Linked DNA regions of Homo sapiens: region 1 is reported to be linked to region 2. The links are microRNA targets in miRTarBase. Many come from high-throughput screens and were not tested one by one. Region 2 holds a microRNA gene; the other region holds the end of a gene's coding sequence. Distances are between the middles of the regions.
What was found. Region 2 holds the annotated microRNA hsa-miR-6803-3p (UCCCUCGCCUUCUCACCCUCAG, at 4,688-4,709, opposite strand). A microRNA usually pairs through its seed, bases 2 to 8, with sites in the 3' UTR of a target mRNA and lowers its output. Matches are read on the target gene's strand: a 7mer-m8 pairs with bases 2 to 8, a 7mer-A1 pairs with bases 2 to 7 and ends in A, and an 8mer does both.

Region 1: miRTarBase lists HCN2 as a target of hsa-miR-6803-3p. Seed matches in the 3' UTR shown: 7mer-m8 at 3,714-3,720.

What each region holds. Positions count from the first base shown.
Region 1 is chr19:613,003-622,690 of GRCh38, forward strand. It overlaps HCN2 (hyperpolarization activated cyclic nucleotide gated potassium and sodium channel 2), which reads left to right. Exons shown (of 8, transcript NM_001194.4): 6 at 246-486; 7 at 850-1,014; 8 at 2,793-4,157. The coding sequence ends at 3,472. It overlaps POLRMT (RNA polymerase mitochondrial), which reads right to left. Exons shown (of 21, transcript NM_005035.4): 8 at 9,580-9,688; 9 at 9,147-9,371; 10 at 8,056-8,844; 11 at 7,363-7,485; 12 at 6,956-7,078; 13 at 6,584-6,763; 14 at 6,208-6,294; 15 at 5,995-6,108; 16 at 5,703-5,758; 17 at 5,486-5,584; 18 at 4,775-4,847; 19 at 4,568-4,653; 20 at 4,417-4,478; 21 at 4,219-4,321. The coding sequence ends at 4,272. LOC107987266 (a long non-coding RNA gene) reads right to left here and starts at 471. Exons shown (of 2, transcript XR_001753828.2): 1 at 1-471. RefSeq lists a silencer at 337-518.
Region 2 is chr19:55,240,499-55,250,121 of GRCh38, forward strand. MIR6803 (microRNA 6803) reads right to left here and starts at 4,752; the gene lies at 4,688-4,752. It overlaps PPP6R1 (protein phosphatase 6 regulatory subunit 1), which reads right to left. Exons shown (of 24, transcript NM_014931.4): 2 at 6,379-6,611; 3 at 4,994-5,180; 4 at 4,767-4,904; 5 at 4,622-4,687; 6 at 1,878-1,990; 7 at 1,668-1,781; 8 at 979-1,141; 9 at 741-893; 10 at 447-581. The coding sequence starts at 6,605.

The DNA.
Region 1 (9,688 bases), 55 Mb from region 2:
AGCCGCCCCTCCTGGTCCGATTGTATTGGCAGATGTCGCCAATACGGTGTCAAACGGCGAAGGGGCACTGAGCGTTTTTTCTTTCTCCCGTCCTTGGCGGCAGCAGCTCGGTTCCGGCTACGGGGCTGAGCCCGTCTCTCAGACGAGGAAACTGGGGTCCGAGAGGTGAGCCGGTCCCAGAGGCAGGGCGAGGGGGAAGCGGGAGTGGGGTCCGCAGCGGACCCAGCCCTGCCTCCCCCCTGCAGGAGATCGTCAACTTCAACTGCCGGAAGCTGGTGGCCTCCATGCCGCTGTTCGCCAACGCCGACCCCAACTTCGTCACGGCCATGCTGACCAAGCTCAAGTTCGAGGTCTTCCAGCCGGGTGACTACATCATCCGCGAAGGCACCATCGGGAAGAAGATGTACTTCATCCAGCACGGCGTGGTCAGCGTGCTCACTAAGGGCAACAAGGAGATGAAGCTGTCCGATGGCTCCTACTTCGGGGGTGAGCTTGAGGGGGGCGCGCCTGGAGGGGGAGGGGGCACGCGACCCCCGCGGTGTGCAGAGCCAGGGGGCCGGGGCCGGGGCCGGGGCCGGGGATGGGGATGGGGATGGGGATGGGGCCGGGGATGGGGATGGGGATGGGGATGGGGCCGGGGATGGGGATGGGGATGGGGCCGGGGATGGGGATGGGGCCGGGGATGGGGCCGGGGATGGGGCCGGGGATGGGGCCGGGGCCGGCACCAGGGAGAGCCTGGGTGGGAAGCGCCCACGCTGGCCAAGGTGCAGAGGCCGGGCCGTGTGCCTGGGCGGGGAGGGCCGCGGCGCCCGCCTCGTCCAGCAACCCCCCCCTGCGCGCCACGTGCAGAGATCTGCCTGCTCACCCGGGGCCGCCGCACGGCGAGCGTGCGGGCTGACACCTACTGCCGCCTCTATTCGCTGAGCGTGGACAACTTCAACGAGGTGCTGGAGGAGTACCCCATGATGCGGCGCGCCTTCGAGACGGTGGCCATCGACCGCCTGGACCGCATCGGTGAGCGGGCCGGGGGCGTGGCCGGGGCGGGTGCCCTGGCGGGGGAGGGGCGTGGCCAAGGCATCAGGAGAGTGGCTTGGACAGTGGCAGGGGGAAGGGCGTGGCTGTGGCATCAGGGGCACGGTTGGGGCAGAGACGTGGCCAAGGCATCAGGAGTGTGGCCATGGCAGCAGGGGCGTGGCTGGGGCAGGGGCAGCGGCTGGCCGCTCCTAGGACCCCTTTGGGTCTAGAGGCTGATTTTCTGACCTATTGTCCTACTTCAGCCAGAGGCAGCCTGTTTCCCAAGGGAGGGAATGCACAGGGTGTTTGCGGTTGTGCCGAATGCTCGGTGAGCACCTGCTGTGTGCTGGGGGTGCAGGGGACAGACCCGGGGGCCCACTCAGACTCCCAGGGAGGCTTATGGACTGGTGATGAAATCACACACGACTGGGCTGTGTGCCAGCAGGGCAGGTGGGGCCGGTGGGCTTCCCTGAGTTGGGAATGCAGAGTGGAGACCAGGGTAAGGGATGCCATGTGGAAACGGGGAGGAAGATGTGTTCGTGGAGTGGACACAGCACATCCCAAGGCCCTGAGGTGGAAAAGAGGCCTAGAGTCCAGAGAGCCAGGGAGGCCTGGAGGAGGTTGGGGAAGAAGGGGAGGCCAGACACACAGGGCCCAGTGGGCGGCAGGGAGAGTTTAGACTAAATCAGGAGCATCAGGGAGCCATGGAGGGTTCTAGGTGGGCGGAGGACCTGGTCAGATTGTATCCGCCAAGGCGGGCCGTGTCCAGGAGGGAGACGGTGACCTGGCCTCTCAGGGGGGCAGTCTCTGGGGCAGGGAGGGGCAGAGCCCTGATGACTGGATGTAGGCGCCAGAGAGATGGCGGCTCATGCTGCTGTTCGTGGGAATGGGAATGAAGACCATGGCTGAAACGCAGGACAGGTGCGACGGAGTGGTGTCAGGGAGCTCCCTGGTGTACAGTAGGAAGCTCTCCACAACTTGCTCTATACAGTGAGTATGCAACCCGTTCCTGAGTATCAGGTGCTTAGGTTATAACTTCTGTATACAGCAGGTGCTCAGCACAGGCTGTGTACAGGCAGGTGTTTTCGGTATGCCTGTGGCACACTGGAGGCAGTCATTACATAATCAGCGTATACAGGTGGTACACATGCATACTTGGTGCACAGTGATACCTGCTCCATGTACACAGCAGGCATTAAATACCTGTTTACTGCCAGGCGCGGTGGCTCACGCCTGTAGTCCCAGCACTTTCGGAGGCCAAGGTGGGTGGATCACGAGGTCAGGAGATTGAGACCATCCTGGCTAACATGGTGAAACCCCGTCTCTACTAAAAAAAAAATACAAAAAATTAGCCGGGTGTGGTGGCGGGCGCCTGTAGTCCCAGCTACTCGGGAGGATGAGGCAGGAGAATGGTGTGAACCCGGGAGGTGGACCTTGCAGTGGGCCGAGATCGCGCCACTGCACTCCAGCCCGGGCGACAGAGCAAGACTCCGTCTCAGAAACAAAGCAAAACAAAAGCCCTGCTTTCTGTATGCAGGTGCTTCATGCATGCTGGCTGTGCATAGCAGGTGCTCAGCCTGTATATGGCAGGTACTCAATATCCATACTATAGGCCAGAGATGCTACATATGTGCTTATTGTATACAGTAGGTGGTAAATGCATGCTTGCTCTACACGGCAAGCACTGTGTGCGCACCCGCGGTGCAGAGTAGGTGCTCGGTGCCCGCTGTACGCAGCAGGCGCTCCCTGTGCACACGCTAACGCCCCCTCTCCCGCAGGCAAGAAGAATTCCATCCTCCTGCACAAGGTGCAGCATGACCTCAACTCGGGCGTATTCAACAACCAGGAGAACGCCATCATCCAGGAGATCGTCAAGTACGACCGCGAGATGGTGCAGCAGGCCGAGCTGGGTCAGCGCGTGGGCCTCTTCCCGCCGCCGCCGCCGCCGCCGCAGGTCACCTCGGCCATCGCCACGCTGCAGCAGGCGGCGGCCATGAGCTTCTGCCCGCAGGTGGCGCGGCCGCTCGTGGGGCCGCTGGCGCTCGGCTCGCCGCGCCTCGTGCGCCGCCCGCCCCCGGGGCCCGCACCTGCCGCCGCCTCACCCGGGCCCCCGCCCCCCGCCAGCCCCCCGGGCGCGCCCGCCAGCCCCCGGGCACCGCGGACCTCGCCCTACGGCGGCCTGCCCGCCGCCCCCCTTGCTGGGCCCGCCCTGCCCGCGCGCCGCCTGAGCCGCGCGTCGCGCCCACTGTCCGCCTCGCAGCCCTCGCTGCCTCACGGCGCCCCCGGCCCCGCGGCCTCCACACGCCCGGCCAGCAGCTCCACACCGCGCTTGGGGCCCACGCCCGCTGCCCGGGCCGCCGCGCCCAGCCCGGACCGCAGGGACTCGGCCTCACCCGGCGCCGCCGGCGGCCTGGACCCCCAGGACTCCGCGCGCTCGCGCCTCTCGTCCAACTTGTGACCCTCGCCGACCGCCCCGCGGGCCCAGGCGGGCCGGGGGCGGGGCCGTCATCCAGACCAAAGCCATGCCATTGCGCTGCCCCGGCCGCCAGTCCGCCCAGAAGCCATAGACGAGACGTAGGTAGCCGTAGTTGGACGGACGGGCAGGGCCGGCGGGGCAGCCCCCTCCGCGCCCCCGGCCGTCCCCCCTCATCGCCCCGCGCCCACCCCCATCGCCCCTGCCCCCGGCGGCGGCCTCGCGTGCGAGGGGGCTCCCTTCACCTCGGTGCCTCAGTTCCCCCAGCTGTAAGACAGGGACGGGGCGGCCCAGTGGCTGAGAGGAGCCGGCTGTGGAGCCCCGCCCGCCCCCCACCCTCTAGGTGGCCCCCGTCCGAGGAGGATCGTTTTCTAAGTGCAATACTTGGCCCGCCGGCTTCCCGCTGCCCCCATCGCGCTCACGCAATAACCGGCCCGGCCCCCGTCCGCGCGCGTCCCCCGGTGACCTCGGGGAGCAGCACCCCGCCTCCCTCCAGCACTGGCACCGAGAGGCAGGCCTGGCTGCGCAGGGCGCGGGGGGGAGGCTGGGGTCCCGCCGCCGTGATGAATGTACTGACGAGCCGAGGCAGCAGTGCCCCCACCGTGGCCCCCCACGCCCCATTAACCCCCACACCCCCATTCCGCGCAATAAACGACAGCATTGGCGCCAAGCCTGGCCGCGTGTGATTGCCCGAGACCCGCAGGGCGTGCACCCTTCCTGAAGACAGTGGCTCCTGGGGGTGGCAAAAGAGCTTTATTTACACACTGACAAGGCTCACGGGGTGTCAGCTGAAGAAGTAGGTGGAACGCTTCACCTGCTCCAGGTCGAAGGCCCCTGCGGAGGAAGCAGAGCGGACGGCGTGGGTGGCGGGAAAGCCCCGCCCTGGCCCGCAGTTCGAGCCACCCTTGCGAGGCTGCCCACCCGCCTACCTGGCTTGGGCACCGCCTGCAGTGTCTCCTTCAGCTGGCTGGCCTCCAAGATCTTCTGGGGCCTGGGGTTGGAAGCAGGGTGGGGTGAGGCTGAGGCCAGGTTTTGGGGTGGGGGGGGAATCCAGGTAGTTGGGGTCAGGGAGCGCCTTACTCAGAGCAGAACCGCTTGACCAGGAATCTGGACAGGTCCTGCAGGATGGGCTCGCTGTGCAAGCGGACAAACTGCTCCCGGCACACCTGGGCAGGAGTCAGAGGATCCCCAGGGGTGATCAGGCAGGCTCTGGGCACCACCCCTACCCAACGCCCCAGTGTGGGGGCCCCACCCATGGGTGGACTGAGGCTCAGACTACGGGGGCACCTGGTTCATGACGGAGACATCAGCTGCGTGAGTCCAGTAACAGTCGTGCACAGAGACGAAGGTCAGGCCCTTCCTGTGGCAGAGCGGAGGACTCCTGAAGGGAGGGGAGCTCACAGGGCCACCCAGTGACCAGCATCCTGGCCCTGCGCTCAGCCCCCTCCACTTGAGGTCCAGGGAAGCCCACCCTCCTGCAGGCCTCGCCCCACCCCTCGCCCCGCCCCTCCCCAAACATCCTGGGTTAGGTATCAGTACAGGGGGAGGAAATGTTCCCAGAAGCCTCCTCGCCCCACCCCTGCCGCCCCCCACGCTGCTGTGGGAGCCTCAGCTCCGAGGGCGGCTACGAGGTCCCCTCCTGCCAGGGCCACCACCCCGCATCCTGAGCATTCCCAGCTCCCGTGGCCGGTAGATTCTGCTGGAACGACCTCCACGTGCTCCAGATCTAACCACACATCGCGGTGCCAAGAAATGCCCAGCAGGAAGGGGCAGCGCCCATGCTCGGCTCTCCCTGTCGGGCCACAGGAGGGGAGCTGCCAGGACCACCTACATTCGGGGCACACAGCCTCAGGGCCTCTACACAGGCCCCACAGACACAGCAGATCCACTCTGCCCAGTCCCTGCCCCCAGCTAGACCCAGCCTTGCCAGCTGTGCCCTGCTAGCCAGAAGACGCCCCTGGGAGGCGAGCGGCACCCACGCCGTCCGGAGACGCCCACCTGTAGCAGTGCAGGGCGGTGAGCATCATGTGGGAGGAGTCCAGCGAGTGGATGAAGTTGGGCGGGAAGCCGTTCTTCTGCTTACGTGTGTTGGGCTTTCTGAGGACGGAACAGGTGCCGGTGGGGGCGGCCCAGGGACACCCCTAACTGGCCGCTGTCTCCACCGTGGCTGCTCTCCAGACCCCCGGCCAGGCCCCAGCCCGGGCCCCCCACTCACCGGCTGATGTCTCCGTTGTGGGTGTAGGTGATGCTCTGAATTCCACCTCCTATTTGCTAAAAAGGGGAAGGGGCCGGTGAGTCCCACCCGAGGCCCAGCACGGTGGTGGTACATTGAGGTGGTGGTACACTGGGGTAGTGGCACGCTAGGATGGTGGCACACTGGCGCGGGATGGGGTGGCACACTGGGGCGGTGGTACACTGGGGTGGTGGTACGCTGGGGCACTGGTACACTGGGACGCTGTTACACTGGGATGGTGGCACACTGGGGAGGGATGGGGTGGTACACTGACCTTGACCTTGGAGTCCAGGCGATAGGGCTGGATGACGGGGACGCCCAGGGGTGTGACCCACTCCACCACAGAGCCCATGTGGGAGATGAGGCGGGCACTCTCGGTCAGCCAGTGCTGTGGGACACAGGCCGTCTCAGGGCAGGGGGCTCAGGCCGGGGATCCCGTCCACTTGCTTAGGGAGTCCTGGCCGAGCGGGGACAGGACAGGACGTACCTGGATGGCCCGGGTCCCCGAGAACATCTCCTGTAGACTCTTGAAGACCTGGCGTACGAGATAGTGAGAGGCCTCCCACACGAACTCCTGCAGAGGGCGGGCAGCAGGTGCAGGTCCTCAGGGGCTGGCCCGTTCACGCCCTACTCCCCCCTATTTCAGAGCCACTGAGGCCCAAGGCCTAGGGCCTAGCAGGGGGGCAGGGGAATGGGGCCTGGCGCCCACGCAGTCAGCAAGAAACGCCCAAGCCCTAACAGGCAGCCAGTGGTCTGGGGGAGCAGCCAGGGCTCCTGCTGGGAGGCTGGGTCGGGGGCACACCCGTCTGAGTTTTAAATGGCAGTGAAACCAACGTGTTCGCAGCGCGACATGCCTGGCGCACCTGGGGAAAGTCGCTCAGCTCCCGGAGGCGCTTCTCAATCTGCAGGCGCCCGCCATAGCGCGTGACCCCGTACACCACCGTCATCACCGTCTGCTTCACCACCTTGCGGGTGATGAAACCTTCCAGCACCTGTGCCACCCGCATGCCCCGCTGGGCGTCCTGCCTACGGAACACCTCCACCTGCACGGCGGGTGGGCCGGGGGCGCGGGTCAGCCCCGCTAGCAGCCCAGGGGCCACCAAGCACCCATGAAGCCCCCGCCCCAGCCCCACCACATCCTCAGGACAGGCCAAGGTGAGGGCACCTGGGGCCGAGACTCAGGGCTCACATTGCCCCCACGCCGAGATGCCCCCGGGCAGCAGGGCACACCCTACCTGCGCGGCCACGCCGCTGTACACGTCCTGCGGCACATCCGAGGGCTCCAGGTTGACGGAGGCGGCGCCCACGCTGTCGCGGCCCAGAGCAGCATAATGCTGCAGGCCGTTGCAAGAGCCGTCCTGAGGAAGGGGCGGCAAACGGGAGATGGAAGCTAGAGAGGCAGAGACGTGTGGGACCCCAAACCACCCCCCAGGTCGAGCCGTTCCTAGGGCCGTGCACCCCCCAGCCAAGTGCACCGGAGCCCCCGCACGCTCCCGGGAGAGACCAGGAGCCATGGCTCCCGCACACTCTAGGACCACCTCCAGAGAATACCACGAGCGAAGGTGAAATCTCACACCCTCAAGTCGAGCCCCAGGCCCAGTGCACACTGCACGGCCTCGGGGGCCAGACCCAGCTGGCTCACCTGATGGACGGGGAGGTGGGAGACATAGGCGGCAGGGTCGGAGGCGCGCACAGCGTTCGCCACCTCCATACAGCAGGCCAGCGTCTGCCAGGGTTCCTCCGCGCCCATCCACCACTTTCGGCCCTGCGGGGACAGCGGATGGGGGGCAGTGAGGCCCGGGCCCGATCCCTGAGCCCGCTGGGAGGCTGTGTTGCGGGGAGGTGGGAAATGGGGAGGAGACGCACACCCGTGATAGTGAACACGGGACGCATGTGGGCGAGAGACGGGGCGGTGGCTGGATGAGTTCTCCATAGCCACGGATGGAGGATGGGAGCTGCGGGTGGACCGGGCTGAAACAAGCGTGTCCGGAGCTGCCGGGGGAGGAGGGTGGACAGAGGACCTGGGGGCGCCGGGGGAGGAAGCAGCTCGGCGGATGCAGGGGAGGGGGGAACGTGGGGAACGCGGGGGCCCTGGGGCAGGGGAGAAGGGAGAAGCAGGACGGGCAGGGGGCGCGGGGGAGGAGAGCGGGCGGGGGACGTGGGGGCGCCAGGGGAGGGGGAGGGGAGGAGGAAGACGGGCAGGGGGCGCCAGGGGAGGGGGAGGGGAGGAGGAAGACGGGCAGGGGGCGCGGGGGCGCCGGGGGAGGGCGCGGGGGCGCCGGGGGAGGGCGCGGGGGTGCCGGGAGGGCGGGGAATGCGGGGGCCCCGCCCCTACCGTCAAGGGTTGGTCCGCGGAGTCCAGGATGTCATCCATCACCTCCTCCGCAAAGGCCAGGCGCTTCCGCAGCGGCTCCCGCTTCTTCAACCCCGTGAGATTGACCAGGTGGATCTTGAGCCAATCCAGGCCGTGCGGGCCGAGCGGGCGGCCCTGGGCGAACTCCAGCAGGGCCCGCGCCACGTCGCTGCCCAGGTGGTTGAAGTGCGGCGGGCAGGGGTAGGTGCGGCCGCGGAAGTCCATGTTGTGCGGCAGCCAGAAGACGCGGTCCCGCAGGTGCTGCGCCAGCGAGAGGCGGTACAGCGCCTCCGCCCGCAGGCTGTGCATCTCCCGGGCCACCTTCTGGCAGTGCGCCAGCTCACGGCGCAGCTCGGCCTTGCGGGCGGGCGCGGCGCTGTGCGGCAGGTGGGCCTCGGGCGGCTGGGGCGCCTCGGAGGGCGGGGCCGGCACGCCTAGCTGGGGGCAGCCCTTGGCCTGGAAGAGCTGCAGCACCAGGTCCAGCACGCGCCCGTTGACGCGCCAGGCGCAGTTGCCCAGTTGGGTGAGGGCGTCCAGTGCGCCATGCAGCGCGGTGGGCGGGCAGGTTTCCAGCAGCTCCTGGTGCTGCGTGGCGCCTTCCACCGTGCGCATCAGCTTGGTGGGGCTGAGCAGGAAAGCACCAGAGTGCGGCGATGTCCAGGGCAGCGGGGGGCAAAGCATGGGTACATCCACCGCCTCGAAGGTCAGCGTGGGCTCCGCGGCCTTCTCCAGCAGCTGCACGTAGGCCGGGTGCGGCTTCAGGATGCCGATCTGGGGTGCGACAGGCAGACGGGTCAGGGCCCCGGTGCTGGGGCTTTCCTGTTCCCACCCCTTAAACTTGGGTGAGAGGGGCCGGCTCCCCGGCCAACAAGAAACCAGTGTGGCCTCCCACGAACAGAAGCCACCTCCAGAAACGGCCGGACACCTGCATGGACACCCATGGTGTGTCCCGAGTCCTGGGAGGTACTGACGGCTGCGCTGAGATCAAGGCTCCGCCCAAAGGCGCCAACCCCATGGGGTCCCTGGTCCTCCCAGCGGGATGCCCCCCAGCTCAGGAGGGCACTGCCTGGCACCTGCTGGACGTTGCGGAAGGAATACACGTGGTAGAGCACGGGGACAAGCCGAGAGGAACGATGCGGCTTGTCCAGGCTGCATGGCATCTGCGTAGCCTGCACCAGCATCTCCGCCAGCAGCTTGCCCAGCTCCATCTGCACTGGCAGGGGCCAGGGCTGCTCCCGCAGGGCCTCGGGCGCCCCCAGCTCCTCCCAGTACTGCCGCGGCAGGCAGGGCTCGGGCACCTGTAGGACAGGGCGGTCAGGGCGCTGGGCACCGGGGCCCCTGAGCTAGATGCCCCACCGCCCGTGCCTGACGCCCGGTGGGGCATCTGTCAGCCCAAGCATACAGATGAACAGACTGAAGCTTGGGTGCAAACCCGGCTGCTCCAGGGAGGGAGAGCGCCCACCCACCACTGGCCCCAGCCAGGAGGAGAGGGGGTGCGAGCCTCACCTCGGCGTCGGAGGCCAGCAAGCAGAGGTACTTCCTGTAGTGGTTCTGCAGCGCCTGCACCTGGCCACTGACCCGCTGCCTCTGCACCACGTGCCGGCTGAAAGTGCGC
Region 2 (9,623 bases):
AGAATATGTGGTGCATACACACACACACACACACACACACACACACACACACACACACATGCATGCACTAACGGACACACACATGCTCACACATACATGTTCACATACTCGTGTGCACTCACACACATACATGCTCTCACACACGCTTGCACTGACACATGCTCACACACGCACGTGTGCGCACTCATGCACACTCAGCTGCTCGCAGGTCTGCTCCCGCCCACCCCTAGCTCTTCAGCTCAAGTCAGGAGCCCACTGCTCCCTGCACCTGCATGTTTCATCCGCGTTTCTCCCTGGCCATGCCTCCCACACCCCATCTGGGCGCTGGCACCTAACACTACCCAACAAACACTTGTGGGAGGAAGGAGTGAGGGGTAGGCCTCTGGAGAGGGTGCGCCCACAGGGGATGGGCCCAGAAGGAGGGGGACCAGGGAGTCCCAGCTCACATGTTTCACAACAGGGTTTTGGATGGGCGTCTCAGGGCTGCTGTCAGGAGGTGGCCCCAAGCTCAGCATGGTGCTCACGCATCCCTCTACTTGGGCATGCAAGAAGTTGTTGAAGACATAATGGAAGAAGAGGTCCTATGGGAGGACACAGGATTGGTACCAGAGAGGCCCCGCCCCAGCCGAGCCCCCAACCCCTGAGCCCCCAGCCGAGCCCCCACCCCAGCCCCCGAACCCTCAGCCCAGTCCAGTCCCCGCCCCAGCCCCTGAACCCCCAGCCCGGTCCAGTCCCCGCACCAGCATGGTGTTGGGCACGTCCAGTGCCAGGAGCTCGTGCGTCAGGGCTGCATCATTGGCGCTCAGGGCACTGGCCAGGAGCTTGACCACGTGCAGCCGCGTGTTGCCCAGAGGCGGAGCCAGCATGCCCCATGTCATCTGTAGCGGCTCCAGCTGCAGACACAGGGAGGCCTGATTCCCAAGGGCTGCCCTTCCTGCTTCCCCCGCCTCCCCGAGGACCAGAACCCACACCCCTGACCTTGGGAGGCTCCAGCAGGAGCTGGTGGAAGCAGCTGAGCCGCGGGCGTAGGGCGTGCAAGGCGCCCACACTGGACACAGTGCTTTCCAGGGCCCCCTGGGCCAGGAGCTCCAGCTGCCCATCCACACTGCTGAAGAAGCTGTTCACGGTCACGGACTCGGACCTGCAGCAGGGCAGGGTCGAAGGCGGAGTGAGCCTAGATGGCCTGTGCGCCCACACAGGAGTAGGCACAAGGACCACGTCTGCAGGGTCTGGAGGAAAACGAGGAGCCACATGCCCCCAGCGCCGCTCTCTTCTGAGGCCCTTCAGACAACACCTGGCTGGGGTGGGGAGCCCGCCAGGCGGCAGCATTGGCAGTCCACTGTGAGAGCACGGGTGAGGGGTGGAGGCGGGAAGGCAAACCCAACAGGCTAGCGGCCTGTGTGGTAAGGCAGGGGCACGGGGGCCTGGGGTCCCTCCCAACACAAGCTGCAGCAGTGGCCTCAGCCTCAGTGCCCTCACTTGTCAAAGCAGACAAGAAGATTCCTCCCTCGGCCCCGTACTGTCCACTGTGCAGGGAGCACAGGCAGCCACAGAGCAAGGTGCCACGGGCGGGGATTTCTCTTGGTGGACACCGAGACCCGCCTCTGAGGGGCCGGAGAGCCCCTGGGGATGGGCAGCATGCATGGTCTGTGGCCCGTATCCCTCACCTCGGCCTCCTGGGCTCCAGCAGGGTCAGCAGCACCTGGATCCCACTGACGATGACAGACTGGCTCTGCTCCCCCTCGAACATGTTGCTTAAGAGCTGCTCAATCGTCTCCTGCCTGCGGGGGCAGGGGCAGGGGTCAGGGTGAGGGGCCAGGGGCCCAGGGCTTCCCCAAGTCAGCTCCCCCCAGCCTTAGCCTTGCCCGCACACCCACTTCTCCAGGGTGGCCAGCAGTTGGTCAGGCTCTGGGCTGTCCTGGACTTGGATCATCTGCTCCCGGCTCAGGCGGATGATGTCACACAGGGACTGGGATGCGTTGGAATGTTGCTGGAACGGGGAGAGACAGGTGAGGATCCTGGTCGGGCCACCGGGCCCTCTGCAGCCTGGTGCTGGGAGCCCCTCCCATGAGCTGACCATCCAGGGAAAAATGGTCACCCAGACACAGGGACACGTGTTACGAAGGAGGAGGGCACAGAGGCACCAACTGCTGGAGGGAAGATGGTGGAGAGAACAGGAAGCCCGGAAGGCTCCCCAGGACAGGAGGCATCCACACAAGGCCCTCATGACCGCATACAGGGCTGGCAGCACCGCCCACAATGACCCAGAAGGCTCTGACTGATGAGTGAATATGCCCAAGCTGGTCTATCCACACAGGAGAGTGCTAATCAGCCAGGAAAAGGAGTGAAACTGATACATGCAACCACATGAATGAGCCACAAAAACATCATGCTAGAGAAAGAAACCACACACAGATCACGTAGTACATGATTCCAATTATATGAAATGTCCAAAGACAAATCCACAGAGACAGAATAGTCTGGTGGTTGCCGGGGGCTAAGAAGAGAAAGGGGAAGATCAGGAGGAGCTGCTAATGAACACAGGGCATCTTTTTTATTTTTTCTGGAGAAAGGGTCTCGGCTGGGTGTGATGGCACATGCCTATAATCCCAGCAGTCTGAAAGGCCGAGGTGGGGCCGGGCGCGGTGGCTCACGCCTGTAATCCCAGCACTTTGGGAGGCCGAGGCAGGTGGATCACGAGGTCAGGAGTTTGAGACCAGCCTGGCCAACATGGTGAAACCCCATCTCTACTAAAAATAAAAAAATTAGCCAGGCGCAGTGGTAGGCGCCTGTAGTCCCAGCTACTCGGGAGGCTGAGGCAGGAGAATCGCTTGAACCTGGGAGGTGGAGGCTGCAGTGAGCCGAGATCGTGCCACTGCACTCTAGACAGAGCGAGACTCCATCTCAAAAAAAAAAAAAAAAAAAGAAAGGCCAAGGTGGCAGGATCACTTGAGCCCAGGAGTTTGAGACCAGTCGGGGCAACATAGCAAAACTCTATCTCTACAAATACAAAAAAATTAGCCAAGAATGGTGGTGTGCATCTCTAGTTCCAGCTGTTCATGAGGCAGAGGCAGGAGGATTGCTTGAGCCCAGGGGGGTCAAGGCTACAGTGAGGCAAGATCACGCCACTGCACTCCAGCCTGGGCAACAGAGCAAGACACTGTCTCAAAAAAAAGACACGGCCTCTACATCACCCCAGGCTTGAGCGCAGTGGTGCCATCACAGCTCACTGCAGCCCTGAACTCCTGGGCCCAAGAGATCCTCCCGTCTCAGACTCTTGAGTAGCTAGGATTACAGGTGTGCACCACCAATGCCAGCTAATTTTTCAATTTTTTGTAGCGACAACGTCTTGCTATGTTGCCCAGGCTAGTCTCAAACTCCTGGGCTCAAGCAATCCTCCAGCCTCACCTGCCAAAGCGCTGGGATTACAGGCAGGACTTGTTTTTTGGAGTGATAAAAAATAATCTAAATTCAACAAGATGATAAACGCTTTGAATACCCTAAAAGCGCTGAATCGTAAGCTTCGGTGGGTGAGTGGTATGCTGTGCAATTTACATCTCAGTAAAGCTGCTACAAAAGAGAGAAAAGAGAGAAGCATAAGCAGAGCTGAGTCTACCCAACGGGCAGCTGCCAGGGCTTGGCAGTGTGGCCCTGGGCCATGCCTCAGGGTCCTCACAGGGACAGGCCCCAGCCTGGGTGAGCCCAGAGCCATCTCTGCTCTGTAAGCCTGTGCGCCTCTGAGGCAGAAGTTGGCATTGGGAAGGACATGTTGCTCCCAGTGGCCTCGGATATCTGAGGCTCTTGACAAACACCCACTCTACACTAGGCCCTGTGCTGGGCACCAGGACAGAGATGGAGACCCAAGCTGGAGAAACACATGGACATGGGGTCCCCCAGAGCTAAAGGGGAGGATGTGAGGGCGCTTGAAAGCAAGGCTGCTGGACGGACACTTAGAAGGACAGCAAGGGGTTCAATCAGGCAGGAGACAGGGAAAAAGCTGCCAGGCCCAGCAATAGCACAGGCCAGGGTGGGCAGGGACGGATGTGGGGCCAGCGCTTGGACAGGCGATGAGGAGGGCCCCTCCCTGCAAGGCATTATGTGCCAAGTTCCTGGGTCATGAAAAAAACCTTTCCAGCACTTTCGGAGGCCACAGTGGGAGAATCACTTGAGTCAAGTTTCTTTCCTTTTCTCAAAGGGCATGGATACACCTGGTTCTCAATGCTCTCTTTTCTCACCAATTTCTTTTCTTTCTTTTTTTTTTTTTGAGACAGGGTCTCACTGTGTCACCCAGGCTGGAGTGCAGTGGTGTGATCATGACTCACTATAGCCTTGACCTCCCGGCTCAAGCAATCCTCCTACCTGAGCTTCCCAAGTAGCTGGGACTACAGGTGTGCAACACCACACTCAGCTAAGTTTTTACGTAGAGACGGGGTGTTACTATGTTGCCCAAGCTGGTCTCAAACTCATGGGCTCAAGTAATCCTCCCACCTCGCCCTCCCAAAGTGCTGGAATTACAGGCGTGAGCCACTGCGTCCAGCCCCAATTCCTCTTTTAAAAGTGGGGAAGTGGGCATGGGGAAGGAACTCTAAGGGGAATCCGCAGGGGCATCGGCAGCACTCACATTCTCATCCTTCGACGGGTGGATCTGCTCAATCAGCCGCTGGACGATCTTCTCCTCGTTGAGCCACTGAGGGTGAGAAGGCGAGGGATGCATCGCTGTCCACCACGCCCAGCCCCCCACCCCCAGAGGAGCCGGCCCTGCTCACATTGACAACATCCTGCCTCAGCTGAGGCCGCTCCACACAGGTGAGCAGGCGCAGCAGGAGGTCCATGATGGCCGAGGTGCCAATGTGCTGCAGCAGCAGGTCCACGAAGTCATCCTTCTTCCGAAGAAAGGACACGAGCTGGGGGCACACGGGCTGCGTCATGCACAGGGCCTGGCCCAGCCACCACCCCTCAACCCACGGTGGCGCCAGGGTGGGGGCCAGGGCACCTGGTCTGTCTTGCGGTTGATGAGGATGCCCATGACCTTGCTGAAGAAGCTGGCCAGCAGTGGGTTGAGGCTGCCGGTGCTCTGCAGGAAGCCGTAGAGCCGGTTCAGAAGGGACTCATCAGCACCCAGGGCATCATTGATCTGGGGCACATCTGAGGTCAGAATCTCGCAGGCCACACTGGGGTACCTGGGAGGCAAGCACAGGCGGGTGGGGGCTCGGGTCGGAGGCCGGGGGCAGGGGGCGGCAAGGCTCCACCCTCTTCTCTGCACCGGGCACTGGGTTTCTGGGAACTGCAGAGACCCCTGTCCAGGAAGGGGAAAGGGCAGAGGACAGGGTGACGCAGAAACAAGGGCCCACACCAGGCCTCCTCCACCCTGCTAACACCCAACCATCCCATCCTAGGCTCCTTACCACCCCCAAGACAAGCTGGTCCTGAAGCTCCTGCGCTTCCCAATCCCCCAGCAGCTAACACTCATCCCTTTTGCCTCTCAGCGGCTTCACTTGCAACCCCGTATGCTGCCCCAGCTCCGGCTGACTCCTGGAACCTTGCTCAACTTCCAACCTCACCTCCTGCCTCCCTCCTCCAAACTTTCACACGGTGCCTGACGGCTCCAAGACAAGAGCTGCCCCACCAGCGTGCCACTCAAGGCCCTGAGGGGCCACAGTCTGCTCCAGGACTGTGGGGAGGTACCCCTTGGGAGGCTGAGGCAGGCATATCACTTGAGGTCAGAAGTTCAAGACCAGCCTGGGCAACATGGCGAAACCCTGTCTCTACCAAAAATACAAAAATTAGCTGGGCGTGCTGGCTTATAGTCCCAGCTACTTAGGAGGGTGAGGCAGGAGAATCACTTGAACTTGGGAGGAGGAGGTTGCAGTGAGCCGATCATGCCTCTGCACTCCAACCTGGTGATAAAGTGAGTCTCAAAAAAAAAAAAAAAAGTGTCTTTTCAGCATCGCTTGGATTAAAAAATAAGTAAAGTGTCTTCAATAGCAGACAAGTGTTTCACAAACATACAAAAAAAGTTTAATAAAAAGTAAATAAAATAAAAGGCGGCGAATAAAGAGAAAAACCAGCCGGGCATGTCGTCACATGCCTGTGGTCCCAGCTACTCGGGCAACTGAGGCGGGAGGATCACCTGGGCCCGTGAATTTGTGGCTGCCGTGACCCGTGACTGTGCCACTGCCCTCCAGAGCACAGGCTTGGTCTGCACCCGGTGAGCTGTGAGGCCTTGTGCAGGAGCCTGGCTGCTCCCAGCCTCGTCTTCCTCATCCCCAAACTGGAGTTTACTGACACTGACGCATTTCAGGGTAGCTGTGAGGCTTGCGTAGTGAAGGTATGTGTGATGCTGATAGGGACGGGCTGGCCAGGAGCTGGGGAACTCACTTGTAGCGCAGCCGCTCCTCACCGCTATCTGGCGGCTCCTGGGTGACCCAGGCCACCATTGCTTGCAGGTGGGGTGGCTGCAGCAGGAAGTCCAGCAGCTTGCGGTTGACGACCTTGCACTCCTGCAGCACGTCTTCCTCGTCCAGCAGCTCGGGCAGGCTCAGGTCCTCCCGCTCCAGCAGCGTGTCCAGGTGCGAGCTTGTGTGCAGGTCAAACTTCCAAAACATGGCGCCCTGCAGGCATAGACACAACCAGCGCCGCGTCAGACGCCCCAGGGAGTCCCCACTGGACGAGGCACTGACCACAGGGGCTGAGTGCCCACCTTGGGCACAGCCTCTCCCCAAGTCCCAGCCCTCTGCCTCATGCTGAGCCCGGCCCCGCCCCGGGACTGCCCGCAGGCTCACTGCCTCCATCACTCAGGCTTAAGGCTCCCAGTGAGCACCAGGCTCCTGCAGTTGCCCTCGAGCCTGCCCCTCTTCCCCCATCTCCAGCCTCCCGGCCGCCTCGCCTGAGGTCCAGGGGGTCATTTCACACCTGAGGCCTCAGGCCTGGTGAAGTCCCCAGGTGTGGACCATGTGCAGGGCCTGCGAGAAGAGGCTGGACCCTGTGCACTGAGGGGCCTCGGGCCCTGTCTCCCCATGAGGGTCTGGGTCCACTATCCCTACTTTTGGGAGAGACACTGCAGAGGCAGGGCCTTAACCTCTGGCTTCAAATTTGCTTCAACCTGTATTTGCTCAACAAACTCAGATGCCCGATGACTTCCAGCACACGGCTGCTGCTTGGCCCAGCAAATCCCCCAAGGCTACGTGGGAGGCATGGGGCGGCGGCAGGGGGAAGAGAGGAAGTCTGTGCATCTCCAGGCTGTGGCCGTTGCCTGGACACCACTCACACACAAACACACCCCAACCATCCTCTCACCCAGCACCTGGGCTGGAACAAGGAAGAGGAAAAGTTGGAAGGGAGGGGCTCCCAGAATAGTCACTGACCAGGACCTGAAGGAACCCAGGGTGGGATAGACAGATTCTGTGGGGGAAGAACAAAGCTGGCAACACCCGGCCCTGACCCTGTCCCCATCTGGAGCTGGCTCCCGCCCTCTGGAGGACAGTGCCTGGTTCCTCAGCCTGGTTCCAGCCCCTAAACGCTCGTGCATGGGAACTCACTGGCAATAAGGAAACACACACAGAGTATTAACAAGATGCCAGGCAACTCCATTCTGAGCCCCTGCCCTGTACTACATCACTGCTCCGCAGAGCCCTAGAAAGCCTCCACACAGACCTTCCACTACAGACCTGACCTGTGACCTGTGCTCTGGGCACTTGATGACAATGGTCCTGGCTCTGCATGTGTGCTGTGCACATGATGTCCAAGCTCACCAGCAGCCCCCAAGAAAGCTGTCATCACTCCGCCACACAGGACAAGGGGCAACCAAAGCCCGGTAAGTCAGGCGGCATCCTGGAATCTCGAAGGCCATCTGGTCCCAGCAGACAGCCTTCACGGAGCTCTCACCAGTTAAGACACTGACCAGAGCTCACGCTCATTACCTGCCTCCTGACAACCGCATCACCAGCTAAGGCAGAGGCCACTGCTACCCCCAAGTCACTACAGAGGATGCTGAGAACAGAGCAGAGCCGGCACAAGAGGCCAAGGGTGCCTCTCCCGCAGGCCCTCACCACCATCACTCCCAGGCACAGATGCTAGTCCCTCTCCTCCAATGCCCTTCTGCAGCTTCTTCCAGTTCAGTCATTCCCTCTGCACAGGCCTCCACCATCTCCTCGAGCCCTGCTGACCTGTCACCTCAGTGCCCACCAGCCCCCAGGCCTGACTCAGCCCCAGGCCCCAGGGAAGAGACAGGGAGACGTGGAGCACCAGGCCCAGGGAAGAGACTTCATCGGAGCTTAGGAGAGCAGCCTGGGCTGACAAAACGCAGGACAGAGTCCCACACATGGCCTCAGGCAGGTCGAACGCCTCTTGGGCCTCCTTTCCTCTCCTTCCTGGCTAGCTTGAAGCCAGGCCAGCCTGGGGCCAGGATCTCCTTGCTCATCCACCCTGACCACCCTAAGGCTGGGCTCAGCACAGAAGGTTGCAGTCCAGACCTTGCTCCCAGTCTGCCCGTCTGCCTCGGTAACTCTAGATTGGCAACAATCTTGATATAACACTATATGGGTCCCTACACCTGGCCAATGACAGTTGAGGGTGGAGCAGAGGGAAGAGTTCCGTGACCAACGACAGTCATGGCGGCAGCAGGAGGACTAGGGGAGATAGCAGCAGCCTCCAGGCATTTGAACCCCTGCTCCTCTGGGGGGCCTGCCAGGTCCCAGTCCACAGCACCCAGTGACTCACCACTTACCCCTCACCAGTCCACTTTTCCCAATAATCCTTTGTTTTTGAGGAGTCTCACTCTGTTGCCCAGGCTGGAATGCAGTGGCACAATCTAGGTTCACCTCAACCTTCACCTCCCGGGTTCAGGCGATTCTTCCGCCTCAACCTCCCTAGTAGCTGGTACTACAAGCATCTGCCACCACACCCGGCTAATTTTTCTATTTTGGTAGAGATGGGATTTCACCACGTTAGCCAGGCTGGCCTTGAACTCCTAACCTCAGGTGATCCGCCCACCTGGGCCTCTCAAAGTGTTGGGATTACAGGCATGAGCCACCATGCCCAGACTCCCAATATTCCTTCTAAGGTTGGGTGTGGTGGCTCACGCCTATAATCCCAGCACTTTGGGAGGCCCAGGCAGGCAGATCACCCGGGGTCAGGAGTTTGACACCAGTCTGGCCAACATGATGAAACCCCGTGTCTACTAAAAATACAAAAATTAGCCGGGCATGGTGGTGTGTGCCTATAGTCCCAGCTACTCGGGAGGCTGAGGCAGGAGAACTGCCTGAACCCGGGAGCGGAGGTTGCAGTGAGTCGAGATTGCGCCACTGCACTCCAGCCTGGGTGGCAGAGCAACACTCTGTCTCGGAAAAAAAAAAAAATCCTTTTAAAGCACAAACATGAGTACCCGCACCTGCTCGGTGATGTGCACTCCACCAAGCCTGCATCCAGGCTCTCGTGCCCCTGCCCAGCCAGCTCACTGACTGACCTCCATGCCCACGGTGACCCCAGTGCCCTGGGGAGGCCGTGCCCCATGCCACCTCGCCAGTGCTCCTGGGGCTGCCACTTCAGGTGTCTCCTGCACAGCCCGTGGCTGCCTGAGGCACAGTGCTGGATGGATATCCAGGAGGCCCTGCGGGTCTGGGTGG